Homo sapiens: one gene and its partner. The main gene of each other region encodes a partner of the protein of the gene in region 2 in a complex. Each region holds a gene or a part of one and is shown on either strand. Other genes may lie near its edges.

Region 1 (3,527 bases), on a different chromosome or scaffold from region 2:
CAGGATATTAATAGATGAAGTTATTCAATTGTTGCCCAGCTTATCAAATATAATAGTTTTTCCATAAATCTAATGGTCCTCTCGTGCCTAACTTCTAACAATTCCATGCATTTGACCTTGCTATTCTCTTGCCTAGAATGCCTTTTCCTTCTTCGTGTTTCTACTCACCTTTCACCCTTAGCTGATACCTCAACTACTACAGCAGAGACACTACTTTTGCTGAGTACAATAACAGAAATTGTTTAGAATATGGATACTCACTCATAAATCCTAAGTCTTCCTTGCAATGACTTTTTTAGTCTTAATGTTGCATATTCACTGCCTTACAGACAGGTTTTTTTTTTTAACTTTTGTTTTTTACCCACTCTTTGCCCAACCTGGTTAGGAACCCTTTCTGGGATTCTCTTGGTTCCCTATGACAGAGAAAGCAACGCATCACAGAGCATCATCACTGATTTTCGTAAATTATTATGTTTTGCAAATTATCAAATATCCCTTAATTTGGTATCCAAAACTTGTTTTTATTAATAGTCTTAAAGGGCATTCAATAAAACGTTCCCATAAATATGCCAGTGAATTTGTTTTAATAACAGAAGATCATGACCTTATAAATTACTAAGAAAAATATGCTGCACAGTAAAACAATGTCTGATGTTCTTGAAAATACTTTTTCACTTTACAAGAGATACAATATGTGCTTCAGTTTACATTTTACTCTCCATCTAACTTCAGAAAAAAAACACAAAAAGGATGCTATACTAAGAAATCTTTAGTATGAGGAGTATGTAATCATAGCCTCAGAAATTTCAAAAGCTGCCACAATGTTTTTCCACTCCTGTAAAGTCAAAGATATAACTCCCTGTTTCCTGCCATGGCAACTGGAATCATTTCCCTCACCCATTTGGTTAACATTCATCGGCTCTAATATTGGCAGCCTGTCTTCATCAAGCCTTATTCTTGCAAAACCATCTCTTACAATAAAAGAAACATAAAATATATTCTCCACAGTACGAGAAAAAGAGTTTGGATCAATCACAAACTCAAAATAGGACACAGGAGTATCAGGATACTTTCGAAAGTAGGTTTGCAACAATCCCAAAATCCTTTCTACGTTTTTTTCTGTCGCTTCTGGATAACTACTCAGGTCCAACTTCTGCAACTTTGTAGGCATGTTGCCATTTTCTTCCATCTTGCGAACTTTTTTCTGGTGTTCAAGTCGGGGCTTTGGTGCAGAACGTTCTAGCTTGAATGAACCAAAAACAAAATGGAATGTCTCAGCTTTTACCATCCAGGATGTTGCTTCCTTTTCTATTGCCTTCCAGAAGGAAAGAGCTATGCTATCATCACAATCACTCAACTTGTCAGGATCGCCTTCCATCCAATTCAGACCCACGAACAGAAACAGAAAGTCACAAAATGCTAACTGATTAAAGAAGTTCATATCTGAGTTTAACTGCTTTGCCTTTTCTTTACCCAAATCAGAAGCCATAACAAGAAACCGGGCGTCGAGGGCTGCTTCTCTGGTTCGGCTCACGCCATCAAAGAGGACGTTGGCTTCCTCCAGAGCCTCGGTTAAGGAGTTGTTCGCCGAGCTCACGATGTCCTCCCGGTTCTGCCGCACGCAGTACATGAGCTGCCGGTACTGCCTGCGGATGCTGCGGCACTTCTCCTCGTCAGCGGTGAGCTCCAGGAGCTTTGGGTCTACGTCGGCCTCCCCAGAGCTGAGGTCGTCGGAGCAGCCCGCGGCCCTCACTGACACATCCATCTTCATCAGCGCTCCCTCCGCCGCCGCCTACTTCGCCGCGTACTCGCTACCGGGGATGATCACGAGCTGCTCCTCTCCTTTCTCTTCGTCTCCCTTCCGGGAAGCTTTTTCAACCAACATGCCGGCCACGGGTATCTCTGAGGTAACGGCCCTCCCAGCGTGTGGAAAGTGGCGGCAGTTAGAGCCGAGGACGCCCGCCCATGCGCACTAGCGGCCCGGCCCGGCGCGACCCGCCCCCAGCACGCTCCGCGGGAAGACAGCCCCGCCCCGGCCCGGCCCAGCCACAAGCCGAGGCGCTCGCTCATAGACCAGCGCGGCGCTCCCAACACGCGCAATGATGGGCCCTGACCTCACACGCGACTAATGCCCGCTCAGGGGACAGCTATTCTTTTTCAAAGCGTTTACCGACTGGATCACCTCACTTTAAAAAAAAACACTTTTGGACAACTTTACACAAAACTATTGAGGAGACTAAAGGTCCTGCGCTTTAAAACGCTCGCTGCCATCATATACTGCAGTGAGGTCGACCTGGTTTTGGTTTTTTGTGAACTAAATCTGGCTGGACTGTAAACCGTCGGTAAGGCCAAGGACCGTGAAAAGCAGAAACTCCATTAAGCAGGCTAAACTCTCAGTTCTTTTGCAAGGTGGTGTTTGGACTCATTATACAAATGTAAATCGGGTTAATTACTTTCACATGTCCTCTTAAAAACCAAGCCCCCTCCAATACCCATCCTGAGTATCTGTGGGATCGGGGGAGCCTCCAATATCCGTGCTAACCCCTGCAGGAAACTGGGTGCTGGGCACGGGCATTACTCAGGTGAACTTTGGTTCTCCACTACCCAGGAGTGGAAGAATAGAATGGGTAGAGATCTCTGCAAAAGAGCTATTTACTTGGAAGCTTGCCAACAGCTAAAGGCCACCGACACTGAATGGGTAGTAACTCTGAACCCTAAAAGGTGGGCAAAGCTATGAAAATTTCAGATACAGTCTAAGGATATGAAAGCTTAATCTGTAAACTGGGTGAGTAATCTGCGTGGGAAAATTTACCCATTGGATTTAATGGGGTCACTGGAAACTCAAGTGCAGTTAAAGACGTGACTCCTTATCTGTCTCACCAGCAGCAAATAGCAAAGTATACATAACAATGGGAATGGCCGGGCGCGGTGGCTCACGCCTGCAATCCCAGCACTTTGGGAGGCCGAGGCGGGCGGATCACGAGGTCAGGAGATCGAGACCATCTTGGCTAACCCGGTGAAACCCCGTCTCTACTAAAACTACAAAAAATTAGCCGGGCGCGGTGGCAGGCGCCTATAGTCCCAGCTACTCGGTAGGCTGAGGCAGAAGAATGGCGTGAACCCAGGAGGCGGAGTTTGCAGTGAGCCGAGATCGGGCCACTGCACTCCAGCCTGGGCTATAGAGCGAGACTCCGTCTCAAAAAAAAAAAAAAAAAAAAAGGGAATGAATACATCTGGTTTTTAAAGAGAACATGCACACAAACAACCCATGAGCATCAACAGCTTTTCAAACCTGCAACAGGTACACCTTAAAAAAAAAAAGACACCCACAATTGCACCTGTCCAATTGCCAGTTTCATAGCACCAGGAAGTAAATTAGCCCTACCTTCCTTTATGCATATAGACTTGTTCTATTTCTTTAGCATTAGCAGAAAGTTTTTTGTAAATGTATAAACAGCAAAATCTAGTAGTATTAAGTTACTCCAAAATCCTTATATTACCATTTGCTCCCAATTATTTTATTAACT
Region 2 (3,949 bases):
ATTGTGGTTGAAGATATAGATTAGGAAGTGTTAAATATGAAGGTAATAACTGAAACTGTTATAGTGGATGTGCTGCCAGAAGACAAGTTTATACAGAAATTCTGCTTTCACTGACTCTGGGATCTCACCAAGTCTATTAATCTGTTAGAAGCCAGAGGAACTGGCAGGAATATAGATTTTCTCTTTTTTTTACAGTTTCCAGAATTCAGTATGCATATATGTTGGATAGTTTAACGATTACAGGTTTTCAAAATAGTTTACTAATAAACTATTTTATTAGTATTTTTTTCTCTTTGGAAAATTGCATCATATGAGTGGTCTACTTTTTCTAACCCATTTATCTTGTAGGCTTTTAAGAACTGTGCTATTGTTGACTTCTTCACAGAATCAAGCACTCTTTTGGAAGAGGGTAATCTCTCTCCAAAAACTGAGGACACTTACCTTCCCCATATATTGAGTCCAGCTGTGTTTGGTGGCCCAGGTGAGTGGCACAGTGATTTGGTGTCTTCTCTATAGGATATACAGAATAGTGTGGCATTTATGAGATATTGGATACATTTGTATGAATGTTTACAGCAGTTTTATTAATATTTTCCTGTGCAGTTATTATTCTGACTTACGAATCTTGTTTCATTGTGTTTGAAAACTTAGGTACTAATTTCAAGATGCCAGGACGTTCCAGTTCAAATTCAGGTTCAACTGGTTTCATCTCCTTCAGTGGTGTAGAGTCTGCTCTCTCCTCCTTGAAAAACTTCCAAGCCTGTATCAACTCTGGTATGGACACAGCTTCTAGTGTTGCTTTGGATCTTGTGGAAAGTCAGAGTAAGTAAAATTAAAACCTCTTTTGTGTCTACTTTGAGGTAACACTGTGTGGTGGTATTTATCTGGGGGTGCCTTTTGAGTATCCTTGGGGGAATGATTTAACCCCTCTAGGCATCTGTTGTCTCATTTTATTCTACACACCGCAGCAGGGTACTGAGGGTGAAATAAGATTGACTCATTCATGTGTGTTCAGACAGTTAAGTTCCATGAGAAACTGCGCTAGAAATGTATGGGCAAAGATTTGAAGATCCTGACCCCAAGGAGCATACAATCTAAAGTATTTGACATTTGTGAACTGTAAGGTATATAAATTTATTATGATATTGTTATTTTTCAGTAGTTTATACTTTGGTCATACTTGATTAACCAGTAGATAGACTAAGCTTATGCTAGGGATACCAGCAAAGGAAGGCCTCAACAAAAATGAGAAAAGTTCAACTTTAATGAATTTTACCTACATTTGTTCAATCAAGAAGATCTAGAAAGATGTGATTTGCAGGCCGGGTGCAGTGGCTCACCCCTGTAATCCTAGCACTTTGGGAGGCCGAGGCCGGCAGATCACGAGGTCAGGAGTTTGAGACCAGCCTGGCCAATATGGTGAAACCCCGTCTCTACTAAAAATACAAAACCAACATGGTGAAACCCCGTCTCTACTAAAAATACAAAAAATTAGCTGGGTGTGGTGGCAGGTGCCTGTAATTCCAGCTACTCGGGAGGCTGAGACAGGAGAATCACTTGAACCCGGGAGGTGGAGGTTGCAGTGAGTCGAGACCGAGCCACTGCACTCCAGTCTGGACAACAGAGCAAGACTCTGTCTCAAAAAAAAAAAGAAAAAAGATGTTATTTGCTTTCTTTGGAGTAGAATCGTTTTTATTTTATTTTACACATGGAGCCAGAGGAGCAGCATGATCCTTTTGTTTTGTTTTTATTGGCATAGGTTTTGAGCAATTTGTGATGTGCCGTGGTGTGATTTTTTTTGTCCTGACTGATATTGTTTGAGATTTATGGATCTGTCAGCTTATAGTTTTTTGAATCAAATTTGGAAAAATTTCTGCTACTATTTCTTCAAATATATTTTTTTAATTCCTCTGCTCTCCTCTCCTTCTGTGTGACTCACATTTCATGTATGTTAGATGGGTTGATATTGTCCCATAAATCAGTGGAACTTGATAGATTTTTTCCAGTCTTTTTACTCTTTAGCTTCAATTTGAATAATTTCTATTGCTAAGTTCATTCATCTTGTCTACTGCAGTGTCTAATCTGATAATTCCATTTAGTGAATTTAAAAATTTCAGTTACTGTATTTTTAATTGTTGAAGACATAACAAAGAATTAAGTAGAATCTTTTTTTTTAGTCTTCCATTTCTTTCTTCATTGTGTCCATATTTTCCTCTACATTCTTGAGTATATGGAGCATGTTTATAATAGCTATTTTAATATCCTTGTATGTTAATTCTGTCATCTCTATGTGTATTATGTTGTTGAGTGTTTGGATTTTGTTGTCTTTTTTTTTTTTTTTTCAGCCGGAATTTTGCTCTTGTTGCCCAGGCTGGAGTGCAATGGTGCGATCTCGGCTCACTGCAACCTCCGCCTCCCGGGTTCAAGCGATTCTCCTGCCTCAGCCTTCGGAGTAGCTGGGGTTACAGGCATGCGCCACCACGCCCAGCTAATTTTGTAATTTTAGTAGAGACGGAGTTTCTTCATGTTGGTCAGGCTGGTCTCAAACTCCCAACCTCAGGTAATCCGCCTGCCTTGGCCTTCCAAAATCTTGGAATTACAGGCATGAGCCTCCATGCCCAGCTTGTTGTCCTCTTTTAAATAGTGTTGGAGTTTGTTTGGTGTGCAGCTAAGTGATTGTGGATTAGGCTGATCCTTTCTAGGCTTATCGTTAAGCTTTGTTAGGTCAAGTCTAATATAGCCTTTATGTTAGGGCTAATTTAGCCTTGTTACAAAGCATGGCCCTTCTGGAGTCTCTCTTGATTGCCCCGAGGGTTCAGTGCGATAGCTCTACTCTGGCTGGATGGAATTTGAGTGTCTCCCGGTCCTAGGTCCTACGTGACTGAACCTGGGAGTTGTTCACTTTATAGCTGTCAGTATTTGTTGCTCAGCATCTTAGGACTCAGCATCAGACTCAAGGGGACCCCAGTGCAGATTCCTAGAGCTCTTTATCTGCATAGCTCCCTCACTCTCTTGCAAACCCTGCTGGCTGCCTCAGCCTCCCTGAACTGAAGTCTCTGTCTCCTCAATCCTTCAAGACTGCTGTGCTAGGCCGAGCATGGTGGCTCCTACCTGTAATCCCAACACTTTGGGAGGCCGAAGCAGGAGGATCTCCTGAGGTCAGGAGTTCCAGGCCAACCTGACGAAACCCTGTCTCTACTAAAAAACAAAAATTAGGCATGGTGGAGGATGCCAGTAGTCCCAGCTACTGGGGAGGCTGAGGCAGGAGAATTGCCTGAACATGGGAGAAGGGGGTTGCAGTGAGCCGAGATTGTGCCACTGTACTCCAGCCTGGGGAAGAGAGTGAGACTCTGTCTCAAAAACTCCCTTGGATTCCTCCTCCCTTGCGCAGGGAGGAGGCCATTGCAAGACTTTTCCCAGTTTTCCCTTATTGCAGTAATTACAGTCCTGTCCCGCCTTTGTCCTACTGTCCCACAGCTATTGTTTCATATATTTTGTTTAGTTTTTCAGTCATTCATGGCAGGTGGACCAGCTCCATACAGTTATTCATTTACGGCTAACAGCAGGTGTCACTCATAATCTTTTTAGTGGGTGGCCTCCAAATGTTTTAACCCTACCCAGTCTGTTTTTGATTATGTTTTTGGTGATCATAATTTAGCTTTGATAGATAGGCCTGGATAAAAGTCATAATAAAATCTTAAACCATAAGAGAGAAGACTGGAACATAACCCCTTGGGAGATTGTATCAGTTTTTTTCAGGATTCTTTTTGAAGATTCCTGGGAGTTTTAGCTACAGAGTTTTTTTTTTCTCTTGGTTTTGTTTTGTTTTAAATAAGAGGTATATTTTGTTGTAAAATACAACATGTGCAATTTAAGAAGAATTATAAACATCATTTTTTGAAAGGTTCATGCTCTAAAGCCAAAGTTGGCAAAGTTTTTCTATAAAGGG

The links. Proteins that work in one complex are often made in the same cells at the same time.
Region 1: NSMCE2 (region 2) and EID3 share a complex: the UniProt entries of both Homo sapiens proteins name them as parts of the SMC5-SMC6 complex.

The regions. Positions count from the first base shown.
Region 1 is NC_000012.12:104,302,179-104,305,705, reverse strand, and holds EID3 (EP300-interacting inhibitor of differentiation 3), read right to left. Parts: upstream 1,968-3,527; 5' UTR 1,772-1,967; coding exon 770-1,771; 3' UTR 501-769; downstream 1-500. UniProt on the Homo sapiens protein: Tissue-specific component of the SMC5-SMC6 complex, a complex involved in repair of DNA double-strand breaks by homologous recombination.
Region 2 is NC_000008.11:125,101,666-125,105,614, forward strand, and holds part of NSMCE2 (E3 SUMO-protein ligase NSE2), read left to right. Parts: intron 1-348; exon of another isoform or gene 349-385; 5' UTR 386-481; intron 482-651; 5' UTR 652-665; coding exon 666-822; intron 823-3,949. UniProt on the Homo sapiens protein: E3 SUMO-protein ligase component of the SMC5-SMC6 complex, a complex involved in DNA double-strand break repair by homologous recombination. Is not be required for the stability of the complex.